Homo sapiens: one gene and its partner. The protein of the gene in region 1 interacts with the protein of each later gene in a pairwise test. Each region holds a gene or a part of one and is shown on either strand. Other genes may lie near its edges. The genes, in order: GNPAT and RAB35.

The links.
Region 2: the proteins of GNPAT (region 1) and RAB35 interact in a two-hybrid assay, tested with the Homo sapiens proteins (one large-scale study listed by IntAct).

The regions. Positions count from the first base shown.
Region 1 is NC_000001.11:231,265,212-231,269,019, reverse strand, and holds part of GNPAT (dihydroxyacetone phosphate acyltransferase), read right to left. Parts: intron 3,728-3,808; coding exon 3,600-3,727; intron 3,309-3,599; coding exon 3,233-3,308; intron 3,007-3,232; coding exon 2,855-3,006; intron 2,744-2,854; coding exon 2,613-2,743; intron 1,341-2,612; coding exon 1,117-1,340; intron 1-1,116. UniProt on the Homo sapiens protein: Dihydroxyacetonephosphate acyltransferase catalyzing the first step in the biosynthesis of plasmalogens, a subset of phospholipids that differ from other glycerolipids by having an alkyl chain attached through a vinyl ether linkage at the sn-1 position of the glycerol backbone, and which unique physical properties have an impact on various aspects of cell signaling and membrane biology.
Region 2 is NC_000012.12:120,099,736-120,103,543, reverse strand, and holds part of RAB35 (ras-related protein Rab-35), read left to right. Parts: intron 1-3,808. UniProt on the Homo sapiens protein: The small GTPases Rab are key regulators of intracellular membrane trafficking, from the formation of transport vesicles to their fusion with membranes.

The DNA of each region.
Region 1 (3,808 bases):
GTATTCAGTATTGGGTTGATCAAAGAACAGTAGGTACTTGACTTCAAATAATTATCTGGTCTTTAAAAAAAAACGCATTTCCAACTGTAGCCTGTACAATTTTTTTTTTTTTTTGAGACGGAATCTCGCTCTATCACCCAGGCTGGAGTGCAGTGGCGCAATCTTGGCTCACTGCAATCTCTGCCTCCCAGGTTCAAGCAATTTTCCTGCCTCAGCCTCCCGAGTAGCTGGGATTACAGGTGCACGCCACCATGCCCGGCTAATTTTTGTGTTTTTAGTAGAGACGGAGTTTCACCATGTTGGTCAGGCTGGTCTGGAACTGCTGACCTCGTGATCCGCCCGCCTCAGCCTCCCAAAGTGCTGGGATTACAGGTGTGAGCCACCACGCCCGGCCTTTTTTTTTTTTTTTTGGAGATGGGGTCTCACTATGTTACTGAGGCTGGTCTCGAACTCCTGGGCTCAAGTGATCCTCCCACCTCAGCCTCCCAAGTAGCTGGGATTATAGGTGTGTACCACCATGCCTGGCTAGGATTCATGACTTTATTTTCCACCGTACTAGGTGCCAAGGAAATGGTATTCTAGTCCTCAAGATATTCAGAGTCTCGTAGTGGGAAATGACATGTAAACAATTATTCTCAAATAATCAACGTGCTGTGTTCACTGTGTCCTATAGTGATAAAAACAGATTTGGTGTCCTTTCTCTTTTTCTTTCTTTTTTGAGACAGAGTCTCGCTCTGTTGCCTAGCTGGAGTGCAGTGGCACAATCTCGGCTCACTGCAAGCTCCGCCTCCTGGGTTCATGCCATTCTCCTGCCTCAGCCTCCCGAGTAGCTGGGACTACAGGCGCCTACCACCACGCCTGGTTAATTTTTTCTATTTTTTAGTAGAGACGGGGTTTCACCGCGTTAGCCAGGATGGTCTCAATCTCCTGACCTCGTGATCCACCTGCCTTGGCCTCCCAAAGTGCTGGGATTACAGGTGTGAACCACCGCGCCCGGCCTGTCCTTTCTCTTTCTGAGCAATCCTTTGCTCAAGTCCTCTATAGATTTTTCAGGTCCAGGTTTTAACTCTTCCAAATTAAGCAAGCATTCTCAACACATATGTCCTACCTACATACCAGGCCAAATGAGAAACCCTCCAAATGCCTGGGTTAAGCCTTTTAGCCATAAAGTCTTTTCCACCAGAGCATCAAAGTCCATGGATGGCCGGTTCTGAAGCAGAACAGCAACTATTAGGGTCCAGGGGCTCAAAACCATGTTTTCAATTTGCAGAAGCTCCATTTTGTAGGCAACTTCAGTGACAAAGGCATGCATGTCCTCAGACTGTTTCTGAGGAATGTATCTAAAAGGAAGAGCACAGAGCAACAAATTACAGTTCTGTTACTTAGACAAATGGGGATGGAAAAAGACTCTAGACGTTTTAGAAGGCTTCTCATACTTTGTGCCAACTGAATTCTCTCAGGTCAGGTGCAAACAGTATTCCTTTGCTTTACTATAGTGTAATCTGACCATACATTTCTGGAATATCCTCTTGAGAGATGGTAAAAATACTGAAGGGGTCCAGGGTCCTATTATTCCTGGTTCCAGGCAAAAAACTTTTGTTGCTTCCTAAATAGGATACATCGTTTCTCTGAGAATGGATGCCTGCCCCAGTAGACTAAATTACTATCTTTTCAGAATGCATAGCACGCTGAACATATCTCCATTGTAGAACACACTTAACAGATTATATAATAACTATTTTATACTGAATGGGTGCCATTCAGTTTGTCTGACTTCATGCATGGATTACCAAACTTTGAATAGTACAATAAGGCCTGCACAGAGCTGGCTGGAGCAGAGATACACACATGACCTAAAAATTGCCACACAGGTGGCTTAATGTGAAAGATGCAGCCAGTAAGGGTGCCCTGTACTAGGTAATAGCCAGCCAAACCAATTTGAGATCTAAAGAGAGAGCCTGTGTCAGGAAAAAAACTAACATAAGCGTCTGTGATGACTAATGTAGCTGCTGGGAAACTGCTAAAGCTACAGATAAGTTACAAATGATGTTGCAGCACATGAGGCCTGGAGGGGCAGATGGTTTGTCTCCCTTACTTGTCCAGGTATATTTCTCCTAATTAAGAAAACTCAAATGTGTATCTGTGTTCTTTATCCTGAAAGAACCTAATATATTTTCTTGCCTATAAAACTATAACTCTCTAGAGACTAAGGACTCACTCCCATTCATTACCATTATGCAATCCTTTCTAGGGTCAAAAATAATAGTACATACTTTGGCTAGCTTACCAATAGTGCTCAACAATTCCTGCACATATACTTGTTAATAATGGCATTATTTATTCCCACTTTAGTTCCCTTGAGAAACATGATCATTGTCTGATTTTGCATATTTGACATACATATCTCACAGCTTATCTTTTTTTGGGACAAACACATAATTCTTCTTTAATTGAAGGTTTCCACTGATGAAAACGGAATGATAACAGCATTTCTGATCATTTTCTCTGTAATCTTAAGTAAATCAAGAGAAGTGGTCAACTCCAGCATTGCAACTCACACCTTTGGATTTTAATCCTCATTTCTAAGACAGTTATTAAAACACAGGTCACACCTTGGAACCAAGTTATATGAGCTCCGACTCATCCTCCCAGCTGCCAAAGATCGAAGTGACACAGGATCTCCAAAGTACACATGGATGCTTCCAAAATTTTCAGAGAGAATCTTTCTGGCTTTCAGCAACCCCTAATAGTACCATAACAGGGGGGGAAGAAAACGAAAAGCAGTAAATTTAGAAATTAGTTGATGTGTCAGTCAGCACATTCTCTCAATTAAGCTAAAATCAAGCTCACGTACAGTTGTAGACTCTTTTGGTTTAGGAACCCCTAGAAGCTCATACACATAAAGAGTTTCTTCCAAGATCTTATCATAACTGATACTAATTGGGACAAGGTAGGTATCAAAAACTTCTCTTTTAAAAAATGGCTCCATCACAATATTCAGAAGACCTGCAAAACACAGGGAGAAATGCTTCATCAACATATTGAAGAGCAGAGCAAACATGAGCACATAAACGGAAAATACTAAAAGCATACATTATACACTAATCCCGTAAATATCAACAGTTATACATTTACACTTGAAAAGAATATCTTGTTAAATAAAGCGTCAAGTTTTATGTAGCAGCTGATGTCTTTGGGTTTGTATTTTTCCTTTTAATCTGTAGTGACCTACCAAATTTAGGAGTCAATGTCTTGGCAGAGCGGCTTCTTGTCCCTTCGAGGAAAAATTCAACAGGAGCATAACCATTCTTTAAAGAGAAAACAAACAAAACACAAAACCCATTGCCTACTCTCAAAATGATAAATGCTTCTTTTGATTCCTTTTCCCAAGCTCCCTCCCAAGCTTCCTGAACAAACACAGCTTACAGTGAAAATTAAACAAGAGAGTCACACAGATTAAACCAATTGCTGAGGTTATAAGCAGTTCTTGAGGGAAAGCAAAATAGCTAAGTGTTCTATTCAGAAGTTAAGAGTTTAAATGAGCAAACATCAGTGAAGAAAATATGGCTTAAGAGTAGTTGGGAATTATTTGCATTTACCCGTAACATAGTTTTTACATATTCAGAGAATACAGCCCAGTAGAGTTTATTGCCACCAAAGGTACGCCGCATGAAAAAGGCACCCGACATTCGTAGCAGCTCACCAACCATTTTCATTCCCAGGAAGTCTAAAAAAGAGGGGATAATATTTATTTGCAGATCTTGAAATCTTCTATAAAGATCTAAACTTAAACATGCTTATTTTTCAT
Region 2 (3,808 bases), on another chromosome or scaffold:
CTGTGCCGTCACCTTACAGAGAGAGCAGAATAGCATTTGCCTCGCTAGGGGGTTGCGAAGTGCCTTGCCCACCCAGGACTTAGTCGCTGACAATTCCTCTTGGTAGGTGTCAGTTATGGCAGCTGGAGTTGGCCTGTGCAGGCTCCCGTCACCTGCACTGATGCCTTGGAAGTGACGCTGTCTAGAGACGAACACGGTGCATGTCAGCAGGCCCTTCCCTACCCTTAAAGCTGTTCCTGGGAAATCCGGCCGCCCACCGGTTGCCCACCTTTGTGGCTGAGCTGCAGGCCGGGGGGAAGCTGGGCTCCTGCGCAGATGGGCAGTGTCCTTCGGAGCGGCTCCTGGTTATTGGGTTGTTAGTGGAGCAGGTTTTAGGAAAGAGCAGGGTCTGAAGGGGCCGATTTGGAGCTGTTGGGCTGTGTGTCCTTAGGCAAGTTGCCGAAGCTCTCTGCGCTCGTTTCCTGGAGGGCCTGCCTCTGGGATTGGCTTCCATGTGGAGGGTGCCAGGTGCTCTGCTGCAGGCGTCAACGTGCGTGCCGGGGTGTGGTGTCTGGCAGCTCTGTGTGCTTGGTGCTGCTGTCATCCCATTTGACAGAGGGCGCCCTGGAGGGGTCCCTCCCAGCGGCCAAGCCTGTGCTCCACACAGTGGCCTGTGCAGAGTGAGGGGCGGCTGTCTGGCTCCACGGGCACCTCCTTGGCTCTCTCGAGCAGCTCCTCTGGAAGTGACCTCAGGAAGGCGAATGAGGAAGTCCCAGCCAGCGGCCCCCTTCCTTCCCACAGCATGAAAGCCCGGCACTCCCCAGGCTGGCTGCCCCTGCCCCCGGGCCCCTCGGCATCTCCCGAGGGTGGGAAGTGTGGGGTGCAGCGCCCCCATGGATGGCTGGGAGTATGGGGGAGAGCAGGGCTGCTGGAGAGGGACAGGTGTGCTGGGCGAGCAGCTCCTGGGGCTGGAGCCAAGGCGGAGGGCTTGTCACTGGGTTCACCCTATGCTGAGCACATTTGTGCTGTGGCCCGTGATGCCCGGAATCCCTGGGAGCTCCCAGTCCCGGGGTCGCCCTGGTGTGGTGCTGTGTGGTGACCGTTGATGAGCCCTGTGAGCGAGGGCTCTGTGGCCTGCATGTCTTGGCAGCTGCCAGTGAGAATCTGCGGAGGACACTGGGGCAGGGCTGGCATCAGTGCTTTGGGCAGCCTGGGGCTGCAGGCCCAGGCGAGGCAAGCCCTCATGCCGTTGGCTGGTCTGGGCGCTGACCTCATGAATCCTTGCTCTGGGTTGGTCCTGTCGCTAGGATTTCAGCTGCTTTATTTTGGTTAATCCCGGTAGAGAGACCTGTGACTATCTCCATTTTATGGACAGGAAAACAGGCCCAGGGAGGATGAAGCCTCCTAACTCAGTGGGGCAGAGGTTGGGGGCACTCAGGGTTGGCCCTGAGTCTGCCGAGGCCCTGCATCGACTGGGCAGGTGGCGCCCCTGCCTTCCTGCCCCGTCCTGTGCCTTAAAACCAGGCGGAGGTTCAGGGTGGCAGAGGTTCAGAGGCCCGTGGCCATGAGGAATGAACTCCTGGGCAGGGCAGTGGGGCCTGGGGGGTCCGAGGCTCTTTCAGCAGGAGGAGCCACAGCCCCTCCCTGCCATCATGCAGTCAGCTGCTTTCTGGGCTGGGCAGAGCGGGAAGAAGGTGAACTGGTTCCTCCATTCCGTGGGGAGGCGGGGAGGAGTCACTCAGCTTCCTGGGAGCAACATGGGTTTTTCCCCAGGGGCTTGGGAAGGGGCGGCCTGTGGGCAGCGGCTGGGCCCCTGCTGCCGTCCCACGTGTCTGGGGAAGCAGACAGGTGGCTCCATCTTAGAGTCCCGCTCTGGCCCTCATGAGGCAGGAGGCCCAGCAGGGCGCCCTGAGGGGCCACTGGAAGTCTCGACGCCCTTTGATGGTCACTGGCAAAGAAGGAAGGAGTTTTGGGGAGGTGAGGAGTTTTCAGGAATAGGGCAGTCAGGATGCAGTAGCGTGACTTTTTTCCGATGCAGGGCGTTCAGAGAGAAACTGAAACTGCATCCTGTTAGCCTGGCGAGAAAAAGCCTTGTGGTCACCCCTTCTCGGGTTCTTGCTCTCAGAAGCTGAGGTTTGCCGGCCCTGAGAGGTGCGGGTGGGATGGAGGTGAGGGGAGAAGTGACAAGGAAGGCAAGGCCCTGGCGTTGGGCCTGGGAGTCAGCCCTGGGCGCCAGGACTTCCAGCTGGCCGCTGCACTCAGCCTCACGTCCTTGCTGGTCACATGGCCATCCTGAGGTCTGCTGGATCAGGTGGCTGCAGACATTAATAAGGTAATGGATACCAAGCCCCCAGCTCTGTGCCTGGCCTAGAGCAGAGTCCCTGTGAGTGAAGGTGATTCCTGGTGGCCATGGGAAACGTCGGTGCTCCGGTTCCTCCTAGCCAGAGCTCTGAGCCCCTGACTTCATCCCCAGACAAATTCTCTGCTCTCAGATAAAGCCCCTTTCCTGGGCCCCGGATGAGGCAGAGGCGCCCAGGGAGCCGCGGGGGCTGTGCGCCGGGGCCATGGCTGCAGGCGTTTCTTGGCATCTCTGATCATCTTCAGCAAAGGAGAGTCTGCAGAGCCATCCGCTCCTTGGGCTTCCTCTGCTGGCAGGGGACAGTCGCCTGTTCCTGTGGCTCCGGCGCGCCCTCGCTCTGGAAGGCGTCTGACACACCATGCCATGTGCTGACCCGGCGCTCTCAGCAGCAGCTGCCAAGGCCAGAGCTAGTTCTTGGGCCCAGTGCCAAGAGAGCTTGATCGTCACAGCTACCCCGAAGCCAAGGAGCGACGCTGCCCTGGAAGCAAAGCTGTGGGCAGAATGAAGCCCTGGGAAGAGATCCCAGCGGTCGTGTTGAGGATGGAGCAAGGATGGGGCAGGGGCGGTGGCAGGGGCAGGTTGGGCTTTGTCCCAGGGCTGGGCAGGAGCTCTGGCTCTGCAGCATCAGGGAAGATGCTCAGGGCTGCCCCTAAGCTGCCTGTTGGTTTCCTTCCACCACCTCTGTCTGGGACCACAGATTGTCCTTGAAGGCACATTGATGATGCTGAAGAACGCATACTGACTGTTTACTGCTCCCCCGCCTTGGGGTAATGCTTAGCTCCTTTCTTCCTCATGACCACCCCAGTTAAGGACTAGCCACCTGTGTGCTATAACTGTTGAAGCTGCAAGGTGTGGCAGGGTGAATGCAGGCACCTTCCCAAGGGCCAGCCTTTCAGAGATGGAGCCAGGGTTGGTCTTTGTCCTTAGATCGGGCCTCAGATGTGAAGCATTGGCCAGAGAGCTGATGGGCAGGTGGACAGGAATGGAGCTGCAGCCACAAGTCAGCCTGGCTGCCCCATTCTTGCTCAGCCTGCGCTGACTTGGGCTGTTCCTGAACTGGGGCTTGGGCTGTCCCCATGAACCTCATGGGGGTGGAGGTAATTAGGGCTGGGGCAGGTGGCAGCCAGAAAGCCGGGAGGAAGCGGCCTGTCCACTCATGGTTTGTCTGTGTGCTGTCCTGAGGAGCCCTGGGGTGGAGGTCCCTGCGGCTTTGGGGAGAGGGGACAGAGGGACAGCTCTGGCTGATTGCACAGTGTGGGGCGGGGCTGCCGCCTGGCCTCCGGCTCTTCGACAGCTCTCGGGGAAGCGGAGGCTGTGGTCCCCCTCCTCCTCCGGGGATTGATGTCGTCCTGTGCCACTGGGATGAATGGGGACATGGGGTCTGGAGAGGAGAGTTGGGCCTCCCCTTCCTTCTGGCCTTCCTGGCTGGCCCTGGGCTCTGCATGTTTGGGGTGATGGCTTTGCTGGGCG